4 linked regions of the Homo sapiens genome follow. The protein of the gene in region 1 interacts with the protein of each later gene in a biochemical or structural test. Each region holds a gene or a part of one and is shown in the gene's direction. Other genes may lie near its edges. The genes, in order: UBE2L3, NEDD4, UBE3C and ARIH2.

Region 1 (8,437 bases):
TTTTTTTTTTTTTTTGTATTTTTAGTAGAGATGGGCTTTCCCCGTGTTCTCAATCTCCTGACCTCGTGATCCACCTGCCTCGGCCTCCCAAGGTGCTGGGATTACAGGCGTGAGCCACCGCGCCTGGCCCTGTGTATCTGTTTTTCTGGACCTGGGCCCAAGGCCTAATAGGTGAGTGCCCAGGACTCCATGCTGACTGGAGGAAGGAATAGCATGTGGTCAATGGGAGCAGAAGGGCCTGGTAGTCCAGGAGAAGGAAGAAGCCACTTCTTTTCAAAAAATTTATTGCCAGGCATGGCGGCTCACGCCTGTAATCCCAGCACTTTGGGAGGCCGAAATGGGCGGATCAGGAGGTCGGAAGTTCGAGATCAGCCTGACCAACATGGTGAAACCCCGTCTCTACTAAAAATGCAAAAATTAGCTGGGCATAGAGGTGTGCACATGTAATCCCAGCTACTCGGGAGGCTGGGGCAGGAAAATCGCTCGAACCCAGGAGGCGGAGGTTGCAGTGAGCCGAGATTGCGCCACTGCACTCCAGCCTGGGCGACAGGGCAAGACTCCGTCTCAAAAAAAAAAAAAAAAAAATTTATTACTGGCCGGGTGTGGTGGCTCACGCCTATAATCCCAGCACTTTGGGAGGCCAAGTCGGGCAGATCACGAGCTCAGGAGATCGAGAGCATCCTGCCTAACACAGTGAAACCCCATCTCTACTGAAAATACCAAAAAAAAAAAAAAAATTAGCCAGGCGTGGTGGCGGGCTCCCGTAGTCCCAGCCACTCAGGAGGCTGAGGCGGGAGAATGGCGTGAACCCGGGAGGCGGAGGTTGCAGTGAGCCGAGATCGCGCCACAGCACTCCAGCCTGGGCGAAGAGCGAGACTCCGTCTCAAAAAAAAAAAATTAATACTTTTTTTTTTTTTTTGAGACGGACTCTCACTCTGTCACCCAGGTTGGAGTGCAATGGTGTGATCTCGGCTCACTGCAACCTCCCCCTCCCGGGTTCGAGCGATTCTCCCGCCTCAGCCTCCCAAGTAGCTGGGACTATAGGCACCCTCCACCACACCCAGCTAATTTTTGTATTTTTAGTAGAGACGGCATTTCACTATGTTGGCCAGGCTGGTCTCGAACTCCTGACCTTGTGATCCGCCTGCCTCAGCTTCCCAAAGTGCTGGGATTACAGGTGTGAGCCACTGCACCTGGACTATTTATTTTTGTAGATATGGTAGTCTTTCTATGTTGCCCAGGCCGGTCTTGAACTCCGGGCCTCAAGTAATTCTCCCGCTTCAGCCTCCTAAAGTGCTGGGATTATAGGTGTGAGACTGTACGCAGCCAAAAAAGTCTACTTCTTTTTCTTTTCTTTCTTTCTTTTTTTTTTTTTTTTGAGACATGGTCTCACTCTTTCACACAGGCTTGAGTGCAGTGGCACGATCACGGCTCACTGTAGTGTCACTCTCCCGGGCCCAAGTGATCCTCTCACTTCAGCCTCCCAAGTAGCTAGAATTACTTGGCCATCACACCTGGCTAATTCTTTTTTTATTTTTTGTTGAGACGGGGTCTCCCTATGTTGCCCAGGATGGTCTCAAACTCTTTGGCTCAAGCAATCCTCCTGCCTTGGCCTCCCCAAGTGCTAGGATTACAGGCATGAGTCACCACAAGGTTACTTCTGATGGGAGGCTTGGGCAGATGGCACAGAAAGGATAGGTCTGTATGAACAAGGTTTGGCTGAGTGGAGGGGATCGGGTATGACTAGAAGCCAGGCCTGCTAGAGGGAGCAATGAAGGTTTTAGAGCAGGAGAGGGACCCCAAAGGCCAGGCAGCCCTTCCACTGGGACTGGGTACATTTCCTGAGTGCTTGTTTAGTAAAAGCACTTTGTAGCTCAGCGGCTTGACTCCCCACCTGCAAAGTGCAAGGGAGTCATCTTGCAGGCAGCGGTGAGGATGTAAGAAGATGCCATGGCAAAGGCTAGTCCTTGACATTGAGCCTCTGATGATCCCACTCTGTATTCTCAGCTTAGCACATCCGGGTCAAAGGTATGAACTGTGCTTCCTCAACTGGCTTGGAATTTCTCAGCGTAAGCGTCCCCTTCCTCCGTAATTCTCCACAGAGGAAAGCAGTTCCCAATACAGCTATGTTTTTTATTTGTCCTGGGCCCAGTAAGGGCAGGTTCTGTGCTCACAGTAGACCCCAGAGTCAGTCCCAGACTTCTAAGTCCCACCATGACCCTAGAGATCTGATGGGGTCCCTCATGCATACGCTGAATGTGTATTGAACACTCAGTGTACTGGCCTTGGGGGAGGTAAAAGGCAGGCAGAATCGCTGATCACATGAGGCTTGTCATCTAGTTTCTCCCTCCTTTACCGTGTCAAGCCTGGGCTCCCAAGATGAGTGTGAGGCCAGCCTTATTCCAGGATATATATATCTATATATATATATTTTTGAGACTGAGTCTTGCTGTGTTACCCAGGCTGGAGTGCTGTGGAGCTATCTCCACTCACGGCAAGCTCCGCCTCCCGGGTTCACGCCATTCTCCTGCCTCAGCCTCCCGAGTAGCTGGGAATACAGGCGCCCGCCACCACGCCCGGCTAATTTTTTGTATTTTTAGTAGAGATGGGGTTTCACCGTGTTAGCCAGGATGGTCTCAATCTCCTGACCTCGTGATCCACCCACCTCGGCTTCCCAAAGTGCTGGGATTACAGGTGTGAACCACCACACCCGGCCCCAGGATATATTATTTCCAGTTCCCTTTCCTTCTCTCCTTTCAGGAGAAACCCACTGTTCTTAGAAATGGAGAAAAATGTCCAGGCCCAGTGACTCACACCTATAATCCCAGCACTTTGGGAGGCCAAGGTGGGTGGATCACTTGAGGTCAGGAGTTCAAGACCATCCTGGCCAAAAATGCTAAAACCCTGTCTCTACTAAAAATACAAAAATTAGCTGGGCATGGTGGCAGGTGCCTGTAATCTATGCTACTCAGGAGGCTGAGGCAGGAGAATCACTTGAACCCGGGAGGCAGAGGTTACAGTGAGCTGAGATCATGCCATTTTGCACTCCACCCTGGGTGACAGAGTGAAACTGTGTCTCAAAAAAAAAAAAAAAAAAAAAAAAAAAAAAGAGAAAAACTCCTTAAGAAGGTCTGAGTATATTCTGAAGCTATGTTCTTCTCTCTGCATTGCTACCTGAGGTCCAAACCACTGTCACCTCTTTGCCTGAATGATTGCAACCGGTTTCCAAGTGGCCCCTGCTCCCCTTCTTATCCTCTTACCCACCTCCATTCCCCATTTTCCAATCAGAGTACTCCTTTTTTTTTTTTTTTTTTTAAGATGGAGTCTCACTCTGTCGCCCAGGCTGGAGTGCAGTGGCGCGGACTTGGCTCACTGCAACCTCTGCCTCCCAGGTTCAAGCGATTCTCCTGCCTCAGCATCCAGAGTAGCTGGGATTACGTTCGCCCACCACCACACCTGGCTAATTTTTGTATTTTTAGTAGAGACGGAGTTTCACCATGTTGGTCAGGGTGGTCTCAAACTCCTGACCTCAAGTGATCCACCCCCCTCAGCCTCCCAAAGTGCTGGGATTACAGGCATCAGCCACTGTGCCAAGCCCCAAAGTACTCTTTAAAACATGCGTCTCAGCCCAGGTGTGGTGGCTCATGCCTGTAATCCCACCACTTTGGGAGGTTGCGGCGGGAGGACTGCTTGAGCTCAGGAGTTTGAGACCAGCCTGGGCAAGACAGTGAGACTTCATTTCTACAAAAAATAAAAAAAAACTTAGGAGGGTGTGGTGGAACGTGCCTGTAGTCCCAGTTAATTGGGAGGCGAAGCAGGAGGATCCCTTGAGCCTAGGAGGTCGAGGCGGCAGTGAGCTGTTATCGTGCCACTGTACTCCAGCCTGGGTGACAGATCAAGACTCTGTCTCAAAAAAAAAAAAAATCATCTGACCATGGAGTCAATACTCATATCTATCAAAGACCTCTCACAGCACATGGAATAGAAACCAACTCCTCCCCTTTCTACAAGACCCTCCATGGTCTGTCCCCTGCCTCCCTCCCACCCTATAATCCTTTTACTCCATTCTGGACACTGAGACAGCCTCATGGTCTTCGCCAGTGCTGCTTCCTCTGCTTGAAACATTCTCCTCCAGTCCTCCCAGCTGTTCCTTCCCATTTTCCAGGTCCCAGCATTGGCTTTGGAGCCAGCAGCCCACCTGTGACAGGAGCCTGGCTCTGCTCCTAGCTGGCCGTGTGACCTTGGGCAAGTCACTGGCTTCTTCTGTGCTTCTGTTTATTGTGAAATGAGGATGTTAATGCTAACGTATCCCAGAGGATGGTTTCAAGGGTTAAAGAAAATAAAGCACTAGAGAGAGGTCTGGCACTTAGTAGGGCCATTTCCTCAATTTGGCTTCCTTGACCTCTCAAAGTATGTCCCCACAGTCACTTTCCTATCACCCAGTTTTCTTCACAGAGCTTGGCAGTGTGAAGTAACCTTGGTTATTCAACTTTTTTTTTTTCCCCCAAGACGGAGTCTTCCTCTGTCACCCAGGCTGGAGTGTAGTGGCAAGATCTCGGCTCACTGCAACCTCTGCCTCCCGGGTTCAAGCGATTCTCCTGCCTCAGCCTCCTGAGTAGCAGAGATTACAGGCGCCCGCCACCACGCCTGGCTAATTTTTTGTATTTTTAGTAGAGACCGAGTTTCACCACGTTGGCCAGGCTGGTCTCGAACTCGTGACCGCGTGATCCACCCGCCTCGGTCTCCCAAAGTGCTGGGATTACAGGCGTGAGCCCCCGCGCCTGGTCAACTATTTTATGCAATCAGTATTTATTATGCTCCTACTATGTGCCAGGCACTGGTTGTAACTGCCATCTGATTGGACGATCCGTAAACGCTGAGGCCCAGTCTGTGCGGTTCACTTGCGTTCCTCCACGCGCCCCCCAGCACAGTGGGAAGCACACAGTAGGTGCTCCGCTCTGCTCCTGTGCCCCGCCCCGCGGCCCCTCCCCCGCTCCAGGAAGTGCGGGGGCTCCAGCCGCCCGGCCGGCCGCGATGCATTCTGGGGAAGGAGCAGCACCAAATCCAAGATGGCGGCCAGCAGGAGGCTGATGAAGGTAAAAGCCATTCTCTGGCAGCGGCCGGGCGTGGGGCGGCGTCCTAGGCTCCGGATCCCCGAGGCAGGCGGCGGCTTCTCAGGGCGCTGCCGTCTGGCTTCCTGCCCTACACGGCCTCGTCGGTTCCCTGGGCCGCGCGCAGGCTCAAGGTGCTAACGGGGCTGGCCTAGGCCGCAGCCTGGGCGGGAGCGCAAGGCCGCGCTGGGAGCCGCTGTCGGCCCCTCAGCCCGGCCCGGGGCGTTCACGCCACTCTCCGCCCGGAGCTTGGCCGCGTCCCCCTGTCGCGGAGGCCGCGGTCCGATCTGAGGGCGTCGTTAATGTGAGAGCCCGGTTGGGAGGCTCCAAACCGGGCGCCTTCGGGGAAGGCCCGAGCGCCGGAGCCCCTGCCCGGAGCCCGCGCCGCGGAACCGCCCCGCCCTGGGCCGCAGCGCGCCGGGCTTGCAGCTCCGCTTGGCCCGGCCGCAGCTCGGGAGTCTGGGAGGTTCGGGCTAGGAAAGAGAGAAGGAGGCCAGGCGGCCAAAGTTAGGTCAGTTTGTTGGTGGGTCGTTTGGAATTGCGCTGGGTCCTAGCAAACTGTCGCCTTGTGACTGCAGAGTCACACAGCGGGTAAGTTCCAACTCCAGGAAGGCCTGAGGTCGGCCCCGATCGCGGCGCGGTTCTGCTTCCCTCTCCTCCACTCAGTCATCCCGATCTCCCCTCCCTGATAAAGTGCCATTTTTGGGGGGATAACGGTTGATTTCAGTCGTTCGAATCAAAACGGGCCAAAGTTTATAATAATAATTTGGTACTTTGGATCTTGAATGCAGCAGGGTGCTTTCTCGCTAATTGGCACCTTTTGGTGAGGAACACATGCTAAATTGGCTTAGTACTTTTGCCAGTGGATTTGCCAAGGTCCTCTGTAGCCCACCCCGCCAGCATCTGTGAGTCGGCGGCTGGGTAGTGCTGCCGGCCTGCAACGGGCCGGAAATTAAAAAAAGGCCCAGGAGCCAGTTTCCTGAGGGGAGATAAAGAGCTGGGGTTCGTTCTAGGCGGAGCAGTGCTTGGTAGAGCTAGACATTGAACTTGGAGCCACAGTCTCTGAGCATTCCCTCCGTCCCTGGGAACGTTTCCTTTCTTTTGTTCCCTAAGGGCTAGAGAGGACATTAACTTTATAAAACTGGAGTGGAAGTGGGCACAAAAGAACAGTCAGAGGACTTCAGACCTCTCCTCATCTCTTAAGCTAGTGACACCACCATTCACCAGATAAGGGGTCGGTTAATGGCTTTCTTTCCTACCCTACTCCCAGGTGCAGTCGTCCATTAACCCTTGTGGATTTAAATTTAGAAAGATTTCTGGAGTGCAGGCCGGGCGCGATGGCTCACGCCTGTAATCCCAGCACTCCTGGGAGGCCGAGGCGGGCGGATCACTTGAGGTCAGGAGTTCAAGACCAGCCTGGCCAACATGGTGAAACCCTGTCTCTACTAAAAATATAAAAATTAGCTGGGCGTGGTTGCATTTGCCTGTAATCTCAGCTACCCGGGAGGCTGAGGTGGAAGAGTCGCTTGAACCCGGCAGGTGGAGGTTGCAGTGAGCCAAGTTTGCACCACTGCACTCCAGCCAGGGCGACAGAGTGAGACTCCATGTCAAAAAAAAAAAAAAAAAAAAGATTTCTGGAGTGCATGCCTTGCTTTCTAATGTTACTGAAATTACTCTGAATCTATATCCTCATCTCTCAGGTGCCCTCCCAAGTGCTCTCCTCCCCAGACTACCCCTGACGGACACCAGAGTTCTTTTAAAGCAGATAACTCAATTCTTTCACTCCTGTTAAAAACCTCTATGGTGTTATTGTCCTCAGCAGTTAATCCTAACCTCTTACTTGGCATGCAGGACCTTTCTGAGACTGGCTGAAAGCAATCCCTTGAGCCTCACCTCCTGCCCTTTGGTTTCCCACAGTTCTTGCACCTAATCACAGTAGCTACTATTTTTCCAGCTTTTACTTCGTGCTTTATATGCATGATCATGTTTAATCCTTCCTGTGAAGTAGACATTGTGATTTCCATTTTGTCGATGAGAAAAGATTCTTTGGCTTGCCCAGGGTTACCTAGCTAGGGAGAGTGAGTTGTGATCGAATTCGGTTCTTTCTCCAAAGCAAAGTCTCCTGCTCTTACTTGCTGTCTGATGTCCCTTTGCACGTGTTGTTTGCTCTACCCAAGAAAAGCTGCCTTCTCCTCACTTCTCCCTTCCAGAGAAGTCCCAGGTTCAACTCCAGTGCCAACTACTCTGTGAGCCCGTGCTCCCACATCCCCCTTCAGAATGTGTTGTTTCCTCCTTTGTGTGACCACAGCGCTTTCTTTATATTTCTCTTTGAGCACTTGTCACAATCTCTTTGTGTTACAGACTTGTCTTTCCTGTACTGGGTTCTGAGATCCCGAAGGGCAGGGATCTTGACCTAATTCATCCTGGTAGCCCCCTAGCCTATCCCAGTTGACCCAGTTTGGAATCTCCAGGCTCTCAGGGGTCTAAGAGGGGACTTATTATGGTTTTAAAATTATTACTCTGTTTCTAAAAAAAAACAGACCTTGGAAAAAAATTGTAACATTAACTGAGTATTTATTAAGTATTAGGTTATTTACGTAAGTCATCTTTTCAACACTCAAAGTTAGTGTATTGTCATTTGTATTTTTTATAAATGAGGACATTGTGAGGTTAAGTAGGTTAAGGGAGTTACCTAAGGTAGAATTGTGGAACGTGGTGGGGAGAGAGAAGACGCTGACTCTTCCTGGCTCCAGGATCCAAATTCCATGCCTCTTGTCAGGCTGTCTTTCTTACTCAAAGGCTGCATGGAGCGGTGTGTTGTTTCTTAAGTTGAGGATGGAAAGGCTTTCAGTTCACTAGGGGAACACCAGTTATGTAATGCTGATCATTGGCTGTGAGAATCAATGTTTAAGACTGTTTTTTTTTTCTTTTAAAGGAAGAAAAATTATTGATACAAGTTGATAAACAGTCTTTTCAGTACATAGGGTGGTAATAAAGTGATTTTCGTTGGTGAAAAGTTGGGGCTTAGTGCATGGAACAGTGCCTTAGGCATAGCAATCTAGCAAATGTTGAATGATCAAATTAATTACATCTTAAAGAACTTTAGATTTCTGTTAAAAATGTTTTCTAGGACATTCCACAGCAAAGATTTCTTTGTAACAATGGACTGTCTGCAGATAGTGTAAAACACATTATTAAAAGTAGAGTGATTTACATATACTACACTGAGAAGTTATTTTAGGCAAAGTGAGTATGATAAAGTCTTTTATTTCAAAAGCACTTGCCAGGAGGCTTAACCTCTTTTAGAAGCCTTTTTAGGAATTACA
Region 2 (4,456 bases), on another chromosome or scaffold:
AAGTCCAGGTAGCTGAAGATCAGAGAGACCCACCTAAACTGAGTGATGAGTGATGGGCTGTCCCAAGACAGGCTAGAACATTCCATCTTGGAGGCTGAAGTGGCAGAGAACTCAGACATTTGGAAGATGTGGTGGGGGCAGCACTCCACAAGGAGTTGTGCAGAGTATCCATGCCCAGAACCCAGTCCTACGTCTTACTTCTACCCCTGGTGAAAAGACATATTTTGGTGGTGTTGGAACATTCTCATCAAGAATAGCAGCATTGCTCTGTTTGCTGTGGTGGTACTTGCTTTGTCAGTGTCTTTCATAACCACTTCCTCTCTGTTCTTTCAGTTTTAATCGCCTGGACTTGCCACCTTATGAATCATTTGAAGAATTATGGGATAAACTTCAGATGGCAATTGAAAACACCCAGGGCTTTGATGGAGTTGATTAGATTACAAATAACAATCTGTAGTGTTTTTACTGCCATAGTTTTATAACCAAAATCTTGACTTAAAATTTTCCGGGGAACTACTAAAATGTGGCCACTGAGTCTTCCCAGATCTTGAAGAAAATCATATAAAAAGCATTTGAAGAAATAGTACGACAACTTATTTTTAATCACTTTTAAATAATGTGTTGCATTTACACAGTTGTTTCATGCTGTCTTTAGAGTTAGGTGCCTGCCTAAAGCCAGGCACCACCACACCTGGCTTTAGAGTTCACACAATAGGATATAAGTCCTGTATGACTTAAATAGTGAATTTTGTCCTTAACATTTACCTCTTGTATAGTATCTGCCAGGCAGTTTTTTCTTAAACTACTGAGATGATAACTGTGAAATATTTGTGATACGTGTCATGTGTGAAAAGTTTGATGCATTTTGAGATGGAAAACTGAAATTTGGAAAAAGAAATACTTTACTATTGAGTAAACTACAATATATTTAGTGCTACTCGCAGCTATTTATTATTTTGTAGACCTGCCTTATGCACCTTACTGCCTAGATTTTTGGGAAAAAACTTTGGAAAGTGTGTTACCTATATTTCTAGCCAACTAACTCACAGAAAAACTGTTTACTTCTTCACTTTCGAAGTATTTGGCTTTTGTTAATATGCAGTTTTACTAAACAGATGGTTCATAAGACATGTGAAGCAAATTCATATTTGCAATGGGTAAAAAGTATTAAAGCCTTTCTCTTGCCTGCATATCCTATTGACCATTGGTATAGTCATCACTTTTTCATATTTTAGTGTAGTTAGAAGAATTCCTTCTTCAAACATTAAAGATCCACAAAGCAGTATTTCTAAATATGCCTTGAAGAACTAAATGAAGTGTATAGCACTTGCCTTTACTAGATATTCTTTACACTTGTACAATTATGTAGTAAATGTATGTTTACAGGGTTTATCATGTTTACAGATTAAGCTAATTTCTGTAGTCGCATTTTTATATTTTTAGTATCACTCTAGTAAAAAAACCAAATAATTTGTTTAAAATAACCAAAGAGTTGTTATAATGCATAATTTGTATTAAATTTATTACTATTTCTTATGCCTTTTAAAATACTGTTTACTATGAAGACAATGTTTTTAATTACAAATCCAGAATTCTGTAGGCAAAATGCTACAGTTCATATCTTCCTTTAACCAAACTGAAGTACATAAAGACCATGTACATGTATTCATCAAACGTTTATTGAATGCTGCGTGCCTAGCGCTGTGCTATGCTCTGGGGTAAGAGTTGTCAGCTTCAGAGAAGCTGAGTCCTGATCCTCAAGGAACTTGCAAATGTGTCTATGAATTTGTAAAACAATCAAAAGTAGGCGTAAGCAGAATAAGGCAAAAGGGAAAGTGTTCTAGGTTCCAGCACACCTGCAAAGATAAAGTGTGCCAAGACTGTATTTATATTTCATACTTATATTGTTTCATCCTTATATTGGAATGATTATATAGAAAATGCTCTTAAAAAGATTAAACCTATTTCTCAGTATGGTATCTTGGTGATTTAGGAATAATTGTAAATATATGTTACGAATCTTCTTAAATATATATATATACACACCCTGTGAGAACTGTAAAAAGTACCTCTGGTTCTTGGTTTAAGTTTGTTGGGGTATAACATGATGAGTACTCATTAGCACCTGATAGAAATCTGAAATGTGACAGTAGCAAAACCACTTTCTACTTTCCAAACACCACAGCATCAGCATGGTTTAGGGGAAGCAATTCACAGATTAATGTACCCTGCGTTTTGTCTTCACCATTGTCAACCAGCAGTCAAGGATGAGCACCAGGTATAGTCCTGGTTTGATATCTCACCAGCCATGTGAACTGAAGCAGCTTACTTAACCTCTCTGGATTCATATTTCTTCATCTGTCAAATGAGAGTAATCATGCCCACCCTCATTGTCATGCCAGATTGTCAGAAGTTCCAGACAGATGAGAAAGCAAAAAGTACTTTGTAAAGTGTTATACAATCAGAAGGTGCTTTGTGCTGACCGTCAGATTGTGTCAAGTCAGGTGTGCAAATTGACCACACTCCCAAAGAATCATTTAAAAGTAAAGTGACTTCTAAGAGACAAGGAAGTAGGAACATTTCTGATATTAAATATATAAATAATATGGATACACATGTGTATATCTGTATATGGATCTTACCATCATAATTCATTTTCTTCATATCAGCAAAGTAATAGTAATGTGGGCCAATGCATTTTGGAAATGTCCTCATTATGTAGAATGGAATGTGAAAATTATTTTTGTTAAAACAGGATTTTGCCACAATTATTTAAATATTATGTTTGTGAACTATCTAAGCATGAGAAAATACAAAGCTTTCTTTGTATCTGGCTGATACTCATTTGGATGATTCTGTGACTCATAGAACATGATGTTAAATGAGACCAGACTCAACTGCCACCAGTCCCCAGCTGCAGACCTTCATCCCCTTCATCTCCCACTAGGGGCTCGTGGTCTGGAAGAAACATCTATCAAGCAACACAGCCCCTTATCCCAGATAGAAAAGTGTCTCAAATGCATTCTACTGCGGGACAGTCAGTAGGATCATTTTCATAAAGCAAGGACATCATATGTTTCTAGAAATTACAAGCATATAACTTTAGCCTACAATCTCTTATTAAAAATTTTTAACAAAATTGTATTACAAATGCATTTCATCAGAACTCAAATTTAAATGGTGTTTGTTTTGGGTTTTTATTTATAATGCTGAAGTTATTCCATATAAGTATCAAGTTAAACACAATTCATTTTGATTATAAACTATTTGACTTTTTAAAATCTTCTGACACAGTAAATATATATATCAAGATTGATGTATCAAAATTTATTGCACACTTTAAAGTGTAAAATCATTTTTTAAAATCTTGAATCCACAAATAAAGTTCTATTCTGATTTTAAAAAACAAAACAAAACTGTGGTTCATTATAAAATAGGAGTGTTTCCAAGTCAGTATGCTGGGTGATGTCTTCTGGTCTAGTTCCTCACAGCAGCACGTTAAATTTTCAGTGCAATCCTAAACTTATTACCTGATGAACTAACATGATTATAAACTCTCAACCACAGATAATTAATTTCCACTTTACAAAAAGGTCGTATTGCATAAGTCTGGTTGTTAGTGAAATAGCCAGAAGATAAAAATAATAGCTAAAAATGGACTGGATTTCAGGCACCTTGCTGCTCATCAAAGAAGCCATTCTTGTAGCCAACCACTATTTACAACATCATTTCTATGAGAAAAAGAGTTCGGAGTGTTAATTCAGAACGAAGTGTCTTTTCCTCCTTCCTCTCAGGCATGAGAATTAGTTTCCCAGTTAGAAGGGAATCCACTCCCACCCACTCAAGCCAGCCTGGGAAGGTGCTGTTCCAGCCCCCTGTTTCTGCCATAATCCAGGCCATAGCTTTTAATTTTGGGGACCTAGGCCATGGCCCTCTGCTTCCACGTTTCCTGTTCTAGCCAACTCGGGCAGCAGCTAGCCCACAGCATGCCCCACCTGTACAAGAAGTCCTTGCTTTGCTGTCCATCACGGCAGACATTTATTTTATAAATGATATTAAACTAAGGTATTAGAATGTCAGTACCTCATTATGAAGAAAGAGACTTAGTAGATTTTTGTCTTTTTCCTTGAAAGTTAAAGCCTATCACACTAGCCTCCTCTTTCTGTTCCGCTCATCTCTTCCCCTGCAATGCATCCTATGCAGTCCCTCCATCACAATCAGTGTTTCCTTTTTAGCACACAGATTTGATCAGGTTACTGTACCGCCAAAAAACCTGAGAGCTCCCCAGAGCCAAAAGCATGAAGCACAAACCCGTTAGCATGGAGGTTCGCATGGAATGCAGTCCATCCTCAGCCTAAGGTCTCAATTCCACCTTCCATCATACCTCACTCAGGTGCCCTTGGTTCCCCTCCAAATCAGAGTCCTTCCAGCCCCTAATCACTGCAGACTCCGGTGC
Region 3 (8,265 bases), on another chromosome or scaffold:
GAGTCTGGAGGGCTTGCTGTGCTGGGGACTAAAGAGCAGGAGGACTGCAGGTGAGGCGTGCAGACGACTTTTTATCGGTAAAGATTTTAATGCCATTTGGTAATTTTGTCATTAACATTTATTATGATAGACAAGGCTTCTAGTATCTTTGTTTCAAAACTGGTTTGTTCCAAAGCTAGAGATAAGAAAATTATGCATCTCATCTAGTTTCATAAAAGGAAGTTTGGAGGACCTGCTCCCATCAAAACACTGGAAGATGCAGAGACTTTTGTCAGCTCCTGGCTAATTAGATAATGCTAATCATGTGAGTAGCAATAAAAATTCGAAGTCCTGCCAGACGTAGGTTCTAGACATTCTGACAGCCAACTAAAGAGCCAGCAATAACGTGTGCCTAGGAGTGCGAGAGCCTTCTCCACCTCCGTGATGCCTCCGGGTTCGTGCATGGCCACTTGTGCTGCGTGAGCGTCGTAGGTTTAGGGGAACAGAAGTAGAGGGATTTACATGAGCTTTTAAAATCCCAAATAGACTGGCCAGGTGCGGTGGCTCACACCTGTAATCCCAGCACTTTGGGAGGCCAAGGCGGGTGGATCCCCTGAGGCCAGGAGTTCAAGACGAACCTGACCAACATGATGAAACCCCGCCTCTACTAAATACAAAAAAAAAATCAGCCGGGCATGGTGGTGCATGCCTGTAGTCCCAGCTACTTGGGAGGCTGAGGCAGGAGAATGGCTTGAACCCGGAAGGTGGAGGTTGCAGTGAACCAAGATTGCACCATTGCACTCCAGCCTGGGCAACAAGAGCAAAACTCTGTCTGAAAAAAAAAAAAAAAAAAAAAAAAAAAAAAAAATCCCAAATAGACTAAAAGGGAAAATCCTACCCCAGTCAAGACCCCGCACAATCATAATTGAGTTATACCGTGGAAAACACTTTGAGCATCCATGAGACGGTCTTACTGTTTTTTTTATTTTTCTCAATGTTCTAACATATGTGAAATTTAATTGATTTTTCCATGATAAGTGTTTTTGAAGTTGTTATATGTTAGACATCCAGTTTGGAAAAATCATCTTAATATTTAGGCTTTCCGGTTAGCTTAGTATGCCTGGATTTGCCAGGGCTGCAGAATTAATGTAGACTTAAAGGAAGAGAATGTCTTTCAGTTGAAGTACTATAAATAGCAAAGGCAGGCAGGCATAATTTTAAAGTTATGAAACTCCTTAGTGCCAGATTATTGGAGAAGAATAACATCTGCTAAAGCTAATTAAAGTTTAATATGTTTAATAAATGTGATTGTTACAGACAAAAAATCATTAAAGTGCTGTAGAAAATTGTTAAGTTACCATCAGGCCACATAATAAATTAATGATTTTTCTCACTCTGAATTAATGCAAATTCCCGTTGTACTGTATTTAATTATGCACAAAATGGTGCCCTTGACTCAGATTTCAGTGAAGAACTTCATTTTTTTACTTTTAAGTCTCCAAGTAGGAAATTCAATTAGCGTTATGAAAGAAACACTAAAATGTGGCATTTAATTGCAAAATATATTTTAAGCTTTTCATTTATCCAGTGACTTTGCCAGCAGTCACTGACCCCTTCATTCAGAGATCCTTTTCTGTTTCAAAAATGCAATGCTTCCTTTTTAGTATATTCAAGCATTTGTGAAAATTATTGCCCTCATGTACTCAGAATGCTGAATAATAAGTGTAATAAATGTTATTTCTGGTTCTCCTTTGGTTCTCATTCTAACATTTTTATGAGAGATTTAAAGGAGCAAATAAACTATAATTAGAAAAAAAAAGACAATGGATTTTAGCACATATTATATGCCACATATATATTTTTTAATGAAGTTTACATTTAACAGTAAAGAGACCTACAAAGATCAGTAATAAGAATCATGTAAGTCTCTTCATAGGCTTTTTTTTTTTTTTTTTTTTTTTTTTTGAGATAGAGTTTCGCTCCTGTTGCCCAGGCTGGAGTACAATGGCCCATCTCAGCTCGCTGCAACCTCTGCCTCCTGGGTTCAAGTGATTCTCCTGCCGCAGCCTCCCGAGTAGGTGGGATTACAGGCACCTACCACCACCCCCAGCTAATTTTTTTGCATTTTTAGTAGAGGCAGGATTTCACCATGTTGGCCAGGCTGGTCTCGAACTCCTGACCTCCGGTGATCCACCCACCTCAGCCTCCCAAAGTGCTGGGATTACAGGCATGAGCCACCGCGCCCATCCTCTTCATAGCATTTTGTGGGCTGTGCTCTTACTAGTTTTACCCTTAACATAAATTATATGCTAAACTCAACATATAATTGAAACAAAATCCAACTGAAATGTGGGTGTGGCCAGTTGGGTGCCTGTTGTGCTTTGTGACAGCTTCAGTGCTTCCAAAGGTTCCTGCAGAATGGGACATTGCTCTAGTTTGATTCACATTTGACTACAATGGTTAGAAGGTAATTACCTTTTCTATTTTTTAAATTTTTTTGAACATAAACTCAAGATTGTATTGTCTTCATAATAAAACAAAAGATGACACTTAGAATTGGATGTCTTGGCCCTTCCTCCTCTTCTGTCCTCCCAGTTCAGAATGCTCACATCTCTTTATATCCAGCATCCTCTTACATCTGCACCTATGCTCAACGCACTCAAGCCTCAGCACAAGCTTCTTCGTAGTTCTAGCCTTTTCCCGGAAAATCAGCTTAGTCTGCCCACCGTAGCCGCTATGCTTCGTGTCCTAACACCACCTTCCCCGGGCACCTGTCCTAACGCCACCTTCCCAGGCACCTGTCGTAACGCCACCTTCCCCGGGCGCCTGTCCTAACGCCACCTTCCCGGGCATACAGAGAATCCGTGCCCTTTTGTGCCGTGTCGCTTTGTGGGCTTGCCACACTTACAGAAAGTCGAACGGGGGCCGGGTGTGGTGGCTCACGCACTTTGGGAGGCTGAGGCGGGCGGATCACCTGAGTTCAGGAGTTCTCGACCAGCCTGGCCAACATGGCGAAACCCCATCTCTACTAAAAATACAAAAATTAGCTAGGTGTGATGATGGGCACATATAGTCCCAGCTACTCGGGAGGTTGAGGCAAGAGAATTGCTTGAACCTGGGAGGCAGAGGTTGCAGTGAGCCGAGATTGTGCCATTGTACACCAGCCTTGTTGAGAGAGCAAGACGCCAACTCAAAAAAAAAAAAAAAAGTCTAGCAAGTATTAGGAACATTCACTTTGTGGGAGCGCTGTTGGCACCGAAAGCACTTTTTTTATATTGGATTTTTTTTTTTTTTTTTTACCTTTCAGTAAAAGTAATGTTTTCATTATAGAAAATTGGAAATTGTGATCAAGTATAAGAAACCTATATTTCCTCCCATTCTAACCATTATTTTTTTATGTTTCCTTCCTTTAATTAGTATGTGTTTTATCTACCTACATGAGTGTGTGTTAATGTAGATATGCATAATTTTTTCTGTTTTTGGTAGAGGTAGGGTCTTGCTCTGTTGCCCAGGCTGTCAGAAACTCCTGGCCTTGAGTGATCTCCCACACCAGCCTCCCAAAGCACTGGTACTACAGGTGTGAGCCAACATGCTCGGCCTGTTACACACACACACACCTGGTATTACAGGTGTGAGCCAACATGCTCAGCCTGTTACGTGCACACACACACACCTGGTATTACAGGTGTGAGCCAACATGTTCGGCCTGTTAAGCACAGAGACACACACCTGGTATTACAGGGGTGCGCCAACATGCTCGGCCTGTTACACACACACACACACACACCTGGTACTACAGGTGTAAGCCAACATGCTTGGCCTGTTACACACACACACACACACACACCTGGTATTACAGGTGTGAGCCAACATGCTCGGCCTGTTACACACACACACCTGGTACTACAGGTGTGAGTCAACATGCTCGGCCTGTTACACACACACACACACACCTGGTACTACAGGTGTGAGCCAACATGCTCGGCCTGTTACACACACACACACACCTGGTACTACAGGTGTGCGCCAACATGCTCGGCCTGTTACACACACACACACACACCTGGTATTACAGGTGTGAGCCAACATGCTCAGCCTGTTACACACACACAAACATATATATTTTTAAGACAGAGTTTCACTCTTATTGCCCAGGCTGGAGTGCAATGCGTGATCTCGTCTCACTGCAGCCTGCAACCTCTGCCTCCTGCCTCAGCCTCCCGAGTAATTGGAATTATTACAGGCATGCACCACTACAGCCGGCTAATTTTTTATTTTTAGTAGAGATGGGGTTTCGCCATGTTGGTCAGGCTGGTCTCAGAAATCCTGACCTCAGGTGATCCACCCGTTGTGGCCTCCCAAAATGCTGGGATTACAGTCATGAGCCACTGCTCCTGGTCACGTAATTTTTAAATATAATTTTAGCTGTATCTTGTGTTCAGTTTTCTAGGCTACCTTTTTCACTCAACATTACATCAGGATCATTTTTCCTCATGTTATTCTTTGAGATATTTTTAATGGGCTTGTAGTGTCCCATCATGTGATTTACCAGTTTACTTTCTGTTTTTTAGTTGTTTACAGCTCTTCCTTCGTTGTGATGCTGTGAACCTCTTGTGCATAAATTATCATGTGCATCTCTAATTATTTCTTAGAGTACAGTCCCAGGAGTTGTGAATGTGGGTGAAGCCCCTGCTCCTGCTGCCAGGCCCACCTCTCAGAGAGTTTCGTGTACACGTGTGCAGGGAAGGGCTGACCTAGCTAGGTCTCTGAAACCCGTGCCAGATACTAAATCTGCACAGGCTGCGACAGTGAGCAGACTGAGGGCGATCTGTGCCTTATTGTCTTCCTGTTGGAAGAGAACACATAAATCACGTATCTCAAATGTGAGGCAAATAGCTAATGGTGTTTGTGTATACGAGGAAGGTGGAGTCACCGGTTCTTCGTGGCCATCAGAGGACCGACACGCCCATAGGTCTCATGCATTAAGTCTGCGTTGAGCAATCCCTAACACGGTTTTTGCCTACAGATACATTTGCACAACTGTGAAAACCAGGTACGTATTCATTGCATCATTTTTTGTAAAAAGCTGAGAGAAGTGCCCAGCAACACGTCGTGCCGCGCGTGTGCATGGAACACCATATAGCCTCACCATTAATAGGCAAGATGAGCGAGACCCATTATCAGATGAGAAAAGCACGGCACGGAATACTGTGTCCAATGTGCTCACCGTCTCAATTTTAAACCTAAAGGAGGGAGAACATTTTCTCATGCGTGCATTTCATCTCTGGGAGCACTTAAGACGCTGAAGCGTTGGTTGCCAGTGGGAATGGGAACTGGGTATCTGTGATACAGGGATGAGAATTTTCACACTGTACCTTTAAATACCAGAACGTCATGAACACATCTGAAAAACAATATTCAAATTTCCCTGATCATCTTTCTTTTTTGTTAACAATTATTTAAATTCTGGCACAAGCAAGCCACTTTTCATCATGCATTTGGTCTATAGATGTTCTACCTCCCTCAATTTCGTCTTGTAATTTAATGAATAGGGGAACTGGGGCCGGGCACGGTGGCTCACGCCTGTAATCCCAGCACTTTGGGAGGCTGAGGCGGGTGGATCACGAGGTCAGGAGATCGAGATCATCCTGGCTAACATGGTGAAACCCCGTCTCTACTAAAAATACAAAAAATTAGCCGGGCGTGGTGGCGGGAGCCTGTAGTCCAAGCTATGCGGGAGGCTGAGGCAGGAGAATGGCGTGAACCCGGGAGGCGGATGTTGCAGTAAGCCGAGATTGCACCACTGCACTCCAGCCTGGGTGACAGAGCAAGACTCCGTCTCAAAAAAATAAATAAATAAAAATAATAGGGTAACTGGGTTGCTTCTTTGTATCTCTTGAAAACTGATAGAGGTCTCATCAGATTCTAAATTTGAATTTTTCTTTTTTTGGCAATAACATCACATAGGTAATGTCGTATGCTTCCCATTCCCTTAATCATCGTGGAGATCCACTTCTCGTGAGTCATCTCCCCACAATGCTGGGATCGATCTCTGCGTCAGAATTCCTCTTGATTTTAGTGGTCACTTATCACTGCCTAGATCCATTGTTTAATGTGCTTCTAAAACAGCCGTGTTCTAATTACATAATTGTATAATTTATTAGCTGGAATTTTCTATTTAAAAACAGCTTTGTTTCTTCTCACCAATGATTTGGTTAACCCGAGTAATAGCTTGTACAGGAAAGATAGAATAAATCTTGATCCTTTTTAAAAAATTTTTATAGACAGGGTCTCACTGTGTGTTGCCCAGGCTGGAGTGCAGTGGTGTGATCATACCTCACTAACCTCGACCTCCTGGGCTCAAGACATCTTTTCACCTCAGCCTCCCAAGTAGCTGGGAGTATAGGGGCAGACCACCACACCTGGCTAATTGTTTTGATTTTTATTTTTAGTGGAAATGAGGTCTCGTTATGTTGCCCAGGCTGGTCTCGAACTCCTAAGCTCAAGCCATCCCCCAGCTAGGCCTCCCAAAGTGCTGGGACTACAGGTGTGAGCTATGCGCCTGGCCTGGAATGTTATTTATCCCTTTTTATGCCTGAAGCACAGTGCATAATCTTTTATGTAAGTTAGAACTAAGCCATCAATGTAATTTTTTAAAAAAGCAAATGTGGGCCAGGCACGGTGGCTCACGCCTGTAATCCCAGCACTTTGGGAGGCAGAGGTGGGCAGATCACAAAGTCAGGAGTTCAAGACCATCCTGGCCAACGTGGTGAAACCCCTTATCTAGGAAAAATCCAAAAATTAGCCAGGCATGGTGGCAGGCACCTGTAATCCCAGCTACTTGGGAGACTGAGGCAGGAGAATCGCTTGAACCTGGGAGGCAGAGGTTGCAGTGAGCTGAGATGGCGCCATTGCCCTCCAGCCTGGGCGACAGAGCTAGACTCCATCTCAAAGAAAACAAACAACAACAACAAAGCAAATGTGGTTTCGGGAAAATGTGACTGCAATGGTAACTTTACTGATTGGAGCAGGCACATTTTGTGTACTTTGTATTAAAACTCATGTAATGCCATGCTTGTTACAGTGACATCTTGCACACATGCTGTTTTTCAGGAGTTGTATCCCGCATTTTGTATTCACAACGGAGGCTCCGACCTTGAGCGGCTCCCCACAGCCAGCACCTGCATGAACCTGCTGAAGCTCCCCGAGTTCTATGACGAGACACTTTTGCGAAGTAAACTTCTCTATGCGATTGAATGTGCCGCTGGCTTTGAGCTGAGCTGAAGCTGATGCTGGGGTCAGACCCCTACAGAGAACCAGTGCTTCCTTCGTCAGCAGCGCCTCCCCAGACCCACGAGGATACTCACACTGCACGCCTGAGGCTCTCCTAAGCTCCTTCTTTCATTCTGCCATTCCTCCCTCCCTTCCTTTTTTAAATGATTTTTATTACGGTGTGGTCACTTATTTAGATGGACATTGCTTTTCAAATAACTTAAAATAACACGTTATGTGCCATGTGGCTACTTTAGTAATATTGCCAAGAAGAGCACAGTTTTTACACTAGTGGCATCTCAGTGAAATTAACCAAAGATGAAGCTTTGGCTTTGCTGGTGAGATCAGAGCCCTCCTGAGCAGGCAGCGCCACTCCAGGGTTCAGACAGGGCTGCACAGGCGGCAGAGATACAGGGTCTGAGGGCTGAGACGCCATGGGGCCGCTGCTGCTTATGTGGTTGGATTGTTTACAAGCCTCATTATTAAAACTGAAGGCATTTTTTTTTTCTGCTGCCTTTCCCAAAGTGGTTAGGTTTGGAAAAGAGATGATGATGGTAATATTTTATTTGTGCTTTTTAAGCCATTTCCCCAAATGGGACTAGCATGCTTGTTTTCAGTATACCGTGGCCTGCCTCATGATGGTTTGGAGATACTGTCTGTGGATGTGAGGTGGGGACTTCATTCATTGTCCTATTTCTATCTCCACTTTGTGCCTGGAGAGCTTTCAGGGGAGGTGGAGGAGGAGGGTCTGCCAAGCTACTGCAACATCTGTCACCCACTATACCCAGTTACTTGGGGGAGGACAGACACTGTGGTGTCATTAAAGTTGTTTGAACCAAAGTGGCGGCTGCATCTTTGTCCCGATGCTAGCCGTGCCGGTCTCCCATCATCCGCTCGCCCTCCTTTCCCCTGGGCTGCGCCCACTTGTCTTCCTGGATATTTGGGGGTGACTCGCCATGCTTGGCACCCTCTGCTTCCTGGTGCTGCTCTGACTCGAAGACGGGACAGTCCCTG
Region 4 (8,265 bases), on another chromosome or scaffold:
TATACCACCTATATGGGCAACCGTAGGGAATGTGGTTTTTTGTTTTGTTTTGTTTCGTTTTTTGAGATGGAGTCTCACTCTGTCACCCAGGCTGACAGGCTGAGTGCAGTGGTGCGATCTCGGCTCACTGCAACCTCCACCTCCCAGGTTCAAGCAATTATCCTTGCTCGGCCTCCTGAGTAGCTGGAACTGCAGGCACATGCCACCATACCCAGCTAATTTTTGACAGAGTCTCACTCTGTCGCCTGGGCTAGAGTGCAGTGGTGCGATCTCGGCTCACTGCAACCTCCGCCTCCTGGGTTCAAGCGATTCTCCTGCCTCAGCCTCCCAAGTAGCTGAGATTACAGGCGTCCGCCACTATACCCAGCTAATTTTTTGTATTTTTGGTAGAGACGGGGTTTCACCTTGTTGGCCATGCTGGTTGTGAACTCCTGATCTCATGATTAGCCCACCTTGGCCTCCCAAAGTGCTTGGATTACAGGCGTGAGGCACCGTGCCCGGCCTGTATTGTTCTTTAAAATGGTAGCAAGCACACCTAGCTAATTAAGGAGAGGGCATTGTTGCCACTATTAGGTGAAGGCTCCCAGGAGGAGAAAAATTGAACAACCTCTGGGTCTCCGGGTTTTGCTTTGGCTTCCCTAAAATGATTCAAGAGCCTCATTTTTGGGGAAGTCAGTAAGCCAAGTTATCCCTGGAGAGTGAATCCTGGGAAACAGGATTTACCATTGTCAGGGTCTGGAAGAGGCAGAATAGGCCAGATATAAAATCTAATAAGGTATTATTAGAACAATGTGTGTTCTAGACAACCAGGAGGACTTCAGACAAGTTTTGCTTCTCATAGCAGCCTTGACACAGATATAACAAGGCACATAGCCCATGTGCTCATGGAATGCAGAATATCAACAGGCCATTGTTCATCCAACAAAACTGTGGTTGGCTTCTCTCCATTAGACTGCAGTAATTCTTTGAGCATCTAACAATAATTTTTTGAACATATAGGGGATTTTTTTTTTTTTTTTTGAGACACAGTCTCGCTCTGTCACCTAGGCTGGAGTGCAGTGGTGTAATCTCGGCTCACAACCTCCGCCCTACAGGTTCAACCAGTTCTCGTGCTTCAGCCTCCCAAGTAGCTACTGGCATGTGCCACCACACCTGGCTAATTTGTGTATGTGTGTGTGTGTGTGTGTGTGTGTGTGTGTGTGTGTGTGTGTGTATATATATATATATATATTTTTTTTTTTTTTGGTAGAGACGGGTGTTTCACCATGTTGGCCAGGCTGGTCTCAAATTCCTGACCTCAGGTGATCCATCCGCCTTGGCCTCCCAGAGTGCTGGTATTACAGGTGTGAGCTACCGCAAAAGCAGAATCATAATTCTGATTATGAACCATTGGATAGCTCTAGGTTTTATAGAAATGTGTTATTTGCCAGGCGCAGTGGCTCACGCCTATAATCCCAGCACTTTGAGAGGCAGAGATGGGCGAATCACTGAACACTGGGGGTTCTCGAGACCAGCCTGGCCAACATGGTGAAACCCCATCTCTACTAAAAATACAAAAATTAGCCAGCATGTTGGCAGGCACCTGTAGTCCCAGCTACTCGGGAGGCTGAGGCAAGAGAATCGCTTGAACCTGGGATGCAGAGGTTGCAGTAAGCCAAGATCGCGCCACTGCACTCCAGCCTGGGTGACAGAGTGAGACTCTGTCTCAAAAAAAAAAAGAAAAAGAAAAATAAGAAATGTGTTTTTTAAAATAGAAGAAAAAGGGGGAAAGCCTTTATTCTTAGTTTCATATACAAAAATCTTTCTAGGACAAGTGTGAGGGTAGGAAGCAGTAGGGAGGTCAGTTTGTACTGATGATGTGCGTTTAAGACAGTCAGGTCGGCCTCAGTTGGACTAGTTCCTCCTTCTTATAGTGGCATTGACATAGCAGACCAGTAGTCTGTATGGTCAGCATCTGCCTGTGTTAGATTAATAAGGCGCATGGCACATGTGCTCATGGAATAGAAATTATCCATAGGCTTTTGTTCCTATCAGCAAGTACAGGCTACAAGGACAGTAGGATGTGACAGGGATGAGAGGTGCACATTCCTTCGGGAAAGAGGCACCCTTGGGAAGTTGTGTTCAGGTGACCCCTTTGGGAGCAGGGTCTGTCTGTCTCACTCCTCTGCCTATGGAGGAAAGTGGAGTTGTCTTGTAGATGTAAATGACTCTTCCTCTGTTCTGCACAGACTTCTGCTGGATGTGTCTAGGAGATTGGAAGACTCATGGCAGTGAATACTATGAGTGCAGTCGTTACAAGGAGAATCCTGACATCGTGAACCAGAGCCAACAAGCCCAGGCGAGGGAAGCCCTCAAGAAGTACTTATTCTACTTTGAGAGGGTAGGTGTCCTCTCCTGTACCTTCCCCTACAGGGTAGGCTTCTTCCACTTGGCCTGCTGGTGGGATTCCCAGGGACTGGTAGACAGAGCTAGCCTGTGCACATAGAAGTCAGTGAATGGAGCTCCTGCAGTATCCCTGGTGCTGCCTCTATAGATGTGCCTTTCAAGCTCTATAGGGTATATCCCCAGCCAACAGGGAAGGACCTGGTACTGACCTTGGTTGAATGATGGATTGAAGGACAATGAAGGGCCATCAGACAGTCTTTTCCATCTAGTACCATCTTTTTTTTTTTTTCTTTTTTCTACGTTTTTAATTTTTATTTATTTTTTTCTTTCTGTCCTCACAATCTGTTCCCATAGTATCATCTTAGTAGTCAGATTTGGAAGGCAGTTTCTCCCAGGGAGCCCTTTAGAAGCCCAAAGAGCCCCATGCATAATGGTCTCTAAGCATAGTAGACCATCAGGGGCCTAGCTTTGCAGAGTCCTCAGGGCTCGAGTCCTGTTGCCCCAGAAGGGTAGAGCGATCTGGCAGTAAGCATACAGCTGCTCTGGACAGGTTAGAAGGATGGACTGAAGAAGACCTGCTCTTGCACTTTGGGGAATAAGTTAGAGGAGTCTGTGGCCATGTCCTGCCAGCAAGGTGTCTATCCTGAACTCCTGTGTAGACCTCTGCACCTTCATGGGACTCCTGTGGTTTTCTTCTTCTTCTGTGCCCTGTAGTGGGAAAACCACAATAAAAGCTTGCAGCTAGAGGCACAGACATACCAGCGGATTCACGAGAAGATTCAGGAGAGGGTCATGAACAATCTGGGGACATGGATCGACTGGCAGTACCTACAGAATGCTGCCAAGCTCTTGGCCAAGGTATCTACCACTTCACTCATCTTATCCCTGGTCCAGTGCCTGGCTCCGTCAGGCACAGACCTCTGATAGTGGGAAGCTCTGTTGAAAGAGGGTATTTTAGCACCCTGTGCAGCCTTTCATGCTTCTGCTTGTGGATCCACATTTTCATGTGCTGTGCCCATTAAGGACCCAGTCCTCTGATGGATGTCCAGGGGATTTATAAGAGTGTTGCACTGCCTCTGCCTGCAGGGAAAACTAGAGCACTTTTCTTCTCCTTTTGTCCTGTTTATGTATCACTCAAAGGAAAATAAAAGATTGTCTGATCACTTGAGGTCAGGAGTTTGAGACCAGCCTGGCCAACATGGTGAAATCCTGTCTCTAATAAAAATACAAAAATTAGCTGGGCATGGTGGTGCATGCCTGTAGTTCCAGCTACTTGGGAGGCTGAGGCACGAGAATTGCTTGAACCTGGGAGTCAGAGGCTGCAGTGAGCCGAGATCACACCATTGCACTCCAGCCTGGGTGACAAAGCAAGACTGTCAAAAAAAAAAAAAAAAAAAAAAAAAAGATTGGGCAGGGTGCAGTGTCTCACGCCTATGATCCCAGCACTTCGGAAGGCCAAGGCAGGTGCATTGCTTGAGCCCAGGAGTTTGAGACCAGCCTGGGCAACATGAGAAAACCCCGTCTCTACAAAAAAAATACAAACGTTCGCCTGGTGTGGTGATGCACACCTGTAGTCCTGGCTACTTGGAAGGCTGAGGTGGGAGGATCGCTTGAGTCTGGGAGGCAGAGTTTGCAGTGAGTGGGGATTGCACCACTGCACTCCAGCCTGGGCAACAGAACAAAACCTTGTTTCAAAAAAAAAAAAAAGGTTGTCTTTGGCTAAGCATTGAGATAGATGTGTTGACTCTGATGTCCTACTCAAGAGGGAAAATCCATTGAGGCAGCTGCTGATAATCAGTTTGTAAAAGAAACTGTGGGTGTTCTGTGACCATCGTTGTTTGTTTTTTCCCTCATGTCTTTTCCCAATTCATCCTCTATTTGGCCTAGTATCATTTCTTTCAGGCCTATATCTATAGAGCTGGGCTAATTTGCATGTTGAGGGTAGGAATTGTAAGAGCCACCTGAGATGCAGGTAGCTTAGAATCACAGACACAGGTTCCTTCTCTTCTCTCCTGTTGCAGTGTCGATACACCCTGCAATACACCTACCCATATGCATATTACATGGAGTCCGGACCCAGGAAGAAGCTGGTAAGGCAAAGCAATTTTTCTACTCTGTCCCGTTAGCCTCAAAGGTGCCCTTCTCTACCAGCACTTTGCAGGAGAGTGAGGACCAGACCTTGGTCATTGGGAGGGCAAAGTTAAAACAAAACTCTAATTGCAAAATTCCACTTCTGCTCTGGGCACCTCCAAAATAGATCTCAGGTGCTATTATTTTGTGTCATATAAGGCACATGCACCTAATCCTCTGAACAACTGTATTTAAAGGGCGATTGGCTAAAAAGGTCTGTGGCCAGTGGGAGGCCAGTAGTGCCCATGCTTGGGAGGGATATTTAGCATGCATGTCCTTAAGATATATTTGACTGTTTTATACCTTGTTTAATTCTTCATCTTAGAGTTGAATTTGAATATGAATTTATTGTTATTACCAATAGTGTTAATAAACTAGTAATTAACATTTTTGTTTAAATGCTGGAAAACAGAAAAGCATTTACATTGTCCAGAGAGAAATTACCACTGTCAGCATTTTCCAGCCTTTTAAAATTAACATTGTGTATATATAATCAAGGTTATATATAACATTTTATTGTTATAACAGTTTATTGTTATAGCTGTTATGATTTACCTGCCTGGTAAATACCATTTTGTTAATGGTTGCATAAATGTGTCATTACATGATTGTACCATCACTTGGGACATTTATTCTTTCTTTCTTTCACTGCTATAAATAGGACATTGAGGAATATTTTTGTGCATAAAGCTGTATATCTTCTTAGATGTATGATTACTAAGTATTTAAGTTTGAATATTTTTAAGGCTCTTGATTTGCTGGAGGACTGAAAAAAATGAAGTGATAGTGTCTGAGAATATTCATTTGACTTATTTTTTACAGCATCCATTCCCTTTCATGTTGGGAGTGTTCTCTTTAGTGGCTTAAATTCTTTGCCTGCCTTTGGGAGTGTGGAGGGTGGAGTGGACCTTTTGAGGGTCGAGGGTGAATGTGGCCTTGCTGTTTGGATAGCCTTTTGTTTGGATTCTGGCTCTGGGCACAGGGAATAACACTACTTTCTGAGGACAGTATCAGGATTGTCTGTAGTTCCTGTGAGCCTGAGGTGCTGCATGTGCCCACCCCCGTGTACAGGCCCTGCCCCAGCCACAGCCCACTCACCTTTTGACCCTCCTGCTCTGCCTATACAGTTTGAATACCAGCAGGCTCAGCTGGAGGCTGAGATCGAAAACCTCTCATGGAAAGTGGAGCGTGCAGACAGCTATGACAGAGGGGTAAGTGCCTACTGTCCTCTTGGATTCTATATTGCAGGTAGAGGACTGGCATGGTAATAGGTGACAGCGTTGTTGGCTTGTGCACTGGTAGCTGCTGCTAAGAATGGGAAGGGCAGTGTTTTTGACTCCTTGGAGGTCCTGGAGGGTGTTTGTGGCTTTGGCTACTCCTTGCTCCCAGGCCTGGGCCATGCAAGCACACACCTTGTTTCTCTGATGCAGGACTTGGAGAACCAGATGCATATAGCGGAGCAGCGGAGGAGAACCCTGCTGAAAGATTTCCATGACACCTAAGTTGGGATGTGGATGTGCCGGGGTGAGGAAGATGTGGCTGCAAGGTCTCCCGGCTGCCATACTGCATGCTGCAGGCTCTGCCTTTCATGACCCCAGGCAACAGCCAGGGCCCCACTCCTGAGAGACACTGGCAACACCTCTTAGTTGATTTCTGTTTTCTTCTCTTTTCACTTTTTGTTTCTACCAGGGTAGAGGCCATGTTGAACTGGCCTCTTTTCAGGACTTTTATTTCCCCCTGGATGGTTGTTGGGAGGGAGGGAAAGTGTTTTCTGAATGGCTATTAATAGTATTAGATCATTACAACTTATGTAACTTTCAAAGGTTGTACAATTATACAAAAAAAAAAAAAAGGCAAACTATAGGATAACACAGAGCCCTTTTTGAAAATAAATTGGCATTGGAGTGTTTTACCCTCTAGCTGTTTTACTTAGAATGTAACATATGCTGCCTACCCACCTCAAAATGTCTGTACTGCAAGAGGGCCCTGGGCCTCTGCTTTCCATATTCACGTTTGGCCAGAGTTGTAGTCCCAAAGAAGAGCATGGGTGGCAGATGGTAGGGAATTGAACTGGCCTGTGCAATGGGCATGGAGCACAAGGGGTCACAGCATGCCTCCTGCCTTACCGTGGCAGTACGGAGACAGTCCAGAACATGGTCTTCTTGCCACGGGGTGTTGTTGTCTCTGGTGGTGCTGCATGTCTGTGGCTCACCTTTATTCTTGAAACTGAGGTTTACCTGGATCTGGCTACTGAGGCTAGAGCCCACAGCAGAATGGGGTTGGGCCTGTGGCCCCCCAAACTAGGGGGTGTGGGTTCATCACAGTGTTGCCTTTTGTCTCCTAAAGATAGGGATCTACTTTTGAAGGGAATTGTTCCTCCCAAATAAATTTGCTTTACCTTGGTCCTTTCTTTTGTGCCAGTATTCAAGTGGTATAGCTCTGAGCAGGGTCACATTTGGCCAAACCTGACACTGTCTTGCTGCATTCTCCTTTGGCAAACATCAGGGTCAGAATTCAGGATAGCCCTTCCTAGGGCACTGGACTTTCTGGCATGGGGGCTGTGTTTGCACAAGTTATTTTCATGTTACCTGGAGAGTGTCCAGAGGCTGCTCTGAGGCTGAGGTGTGTTCCCCCTTGCCTGGTTCCAGCTGTCAGAGGGATACCATCCTAGGGTCTGGGAATCCAAGGCCACGAGACTCCTTGGTTTGTGGTCCGAGATCCTGTACTAAGGAGGGTCTGGCCAGAGGAACAGACCAGCTTTTGCACAATGAAGCGCAAGGGAACAAGTGGTTTGCCTGGTGTCCTACCTGTCCTGAACCTGGTCCTGTGGGCCATTGAAAAGTTAGATCTGTGATCTCTGGGGTTTTTGTGGCTTTGTTCAATGCTTCCACTCTAGGGCAGGCAGAGCAGTCTATACTCTCCCAAGCCTGCTTGACCTCCAAGTAGAGCTGATACAGAGATCTGTGAATATTGTGATAGAAATTCTTTGGTATTCATACATTTCAGCTGCAAGTCAGCAATTTCCCAGGTACCATGTAAGCTATAAAACAGTCATTCTTAAAGACAGAGGATAGCTGTGACTCATGGGATCATGAGGTCCATGGCTGGTTGCAGGTTCCCTTTTTCCTTCCTCAGGTTTTGTCTCTTCCTGTGTTGTCCCCAGCAAGGGAGAGACTGTGGGGTGGATTGGGAGAACAGATTAGGAGTATAGCAAATGAACCCAGAATGGAACAGTGGGGAGCTAACTGTGAATGAGGAGAGTACCTGCTGCAGGACCTGGAGGTCAGGTGTGAATGCTGTATTGGCACAGGGAATAAATATCCTGGCGTCTGGAGCCTTCACCTCTCCGTCAAGTCCTTCCTGTGATACTGCCATGGCACAGGATCTGAGTTGCAGCTCTGCACCCTAAATCACACCCTGGGCATTGTCTGGGCTGCAGGGCTGCCAGGTTCTGTACTTGTGTCCAGCTGTGGCCCTGGATGCTGGAGCTGGAGGGTTTTCTGTGCTCAGACTGTAGCCTGTAGCTCTTGGCCTGTGTAGAGCCCCCTCCTGTGCCCTCAGTGGCTGTCGTTTGTTAACATCATCAGGAAGATGGGAAAGGTCAGGCAGAATTTTTCTGCCCTACAAAGGGTGGAAGAGAAAGGACACAGTATTTTCATGAATTTACCATATATCTTTGTTTTTCTTCAACGAAAAAGTTAATTGAGGCAATGTCATCTGCTCAAAGTTGAGTGGTTTATTCACAATAAA

What was found.
Region 2: the proteins of UBE2L3 (region 1) and NEDD4 form a complex in vitro, tested with the Homo sapiens proteins (19 studies listed by BioGRID, with this or other methods).
Region 3: the proteins of UBE2L3 (region 1) and UBE3C form a complex in vitro, tested with the Homo sapiens proteins (6 studies listed by BioGRID, with this or other methods).
Region 4: the proteins of UBE2L3 (region 1) and ARIH2 form a complex in vitro, tested with the Homo sapiens proteins (8 studies listed by BioGRID, with this or other methods).

The regions. Positions count from the first base shown.
Region 1 is NC_000022.11:21,562,676-21,571,112, forward strand, and holds the start of UBE2L3 (ubiquitin-conjugating enzyme E2 L3), read left to right. Parts: upstream 1-5,038; 5' UTR 5,039-5,069; coding exon 5,070-5,096; exon of another isoform or gene 5,097-5,702; intron 5,703-8,437. UniProt on the Homo sapiens protein: Ubiquitin-conjugating enzyme E2 that specifically acts with HECT-type and RBR family E3 ubiquitin-protein ligases.
Region 2 is NC_000015.10:55,825,877-55,830,332, reverse strand, and holds the end of NEDD4 (E3 ubiquitin-protein ligase NEDD4), read left to right. Parts: intron 1-333; coding exon 334-436; 3' UTR 437-3,411; downstream 3,412-4,456. UniProt on the Homo sapiens protein: E3 ubiquitin-protein ligase which accepts ubiquitin from an E2 ubiquitin-conjugating enzyme in the form of a thioester and then directly transfers the ubiquitin to targeted substrates. Specifically ubiquitinates 'Lys-63' in target proteins.
Region 3 is NC_000007.14:157,260,493-157,268,757, forward strand, and holds part of UBE3C (ubiquitin-protein ligase E3C), read left to right. Parts: intron 1-7,092; coding exon 7,093-7,263; 3' UTR 7,264-8,265. UniProt on the Homo sapiens protein: E3 ubiquitin-protein ligase that specifically catalyzes 'Lys-29'- and 'Lys-48'-linked polyubiquitin chains.
Region 4 is NC_000003.12:48,977,254-48,985,518, forward strand, and holds part of ARIH2 (E3 ubiquitin-protein ligase ARIH2), read left to right. Parts: intron 1-2,228; coding exon 2,229-2,380; intron 2,381-3,099; coding exon 3,100-3,243; intron 3,244-4,380; coding exon of another isoform or gene 4,381-4,406; coding exon 4,407-4,475; intron 4,476-5,642; coding exon 5,643-5,726; intron 5,727-5,945; coding exon 5,946-6,017; 3' UTR 6,018-8,265.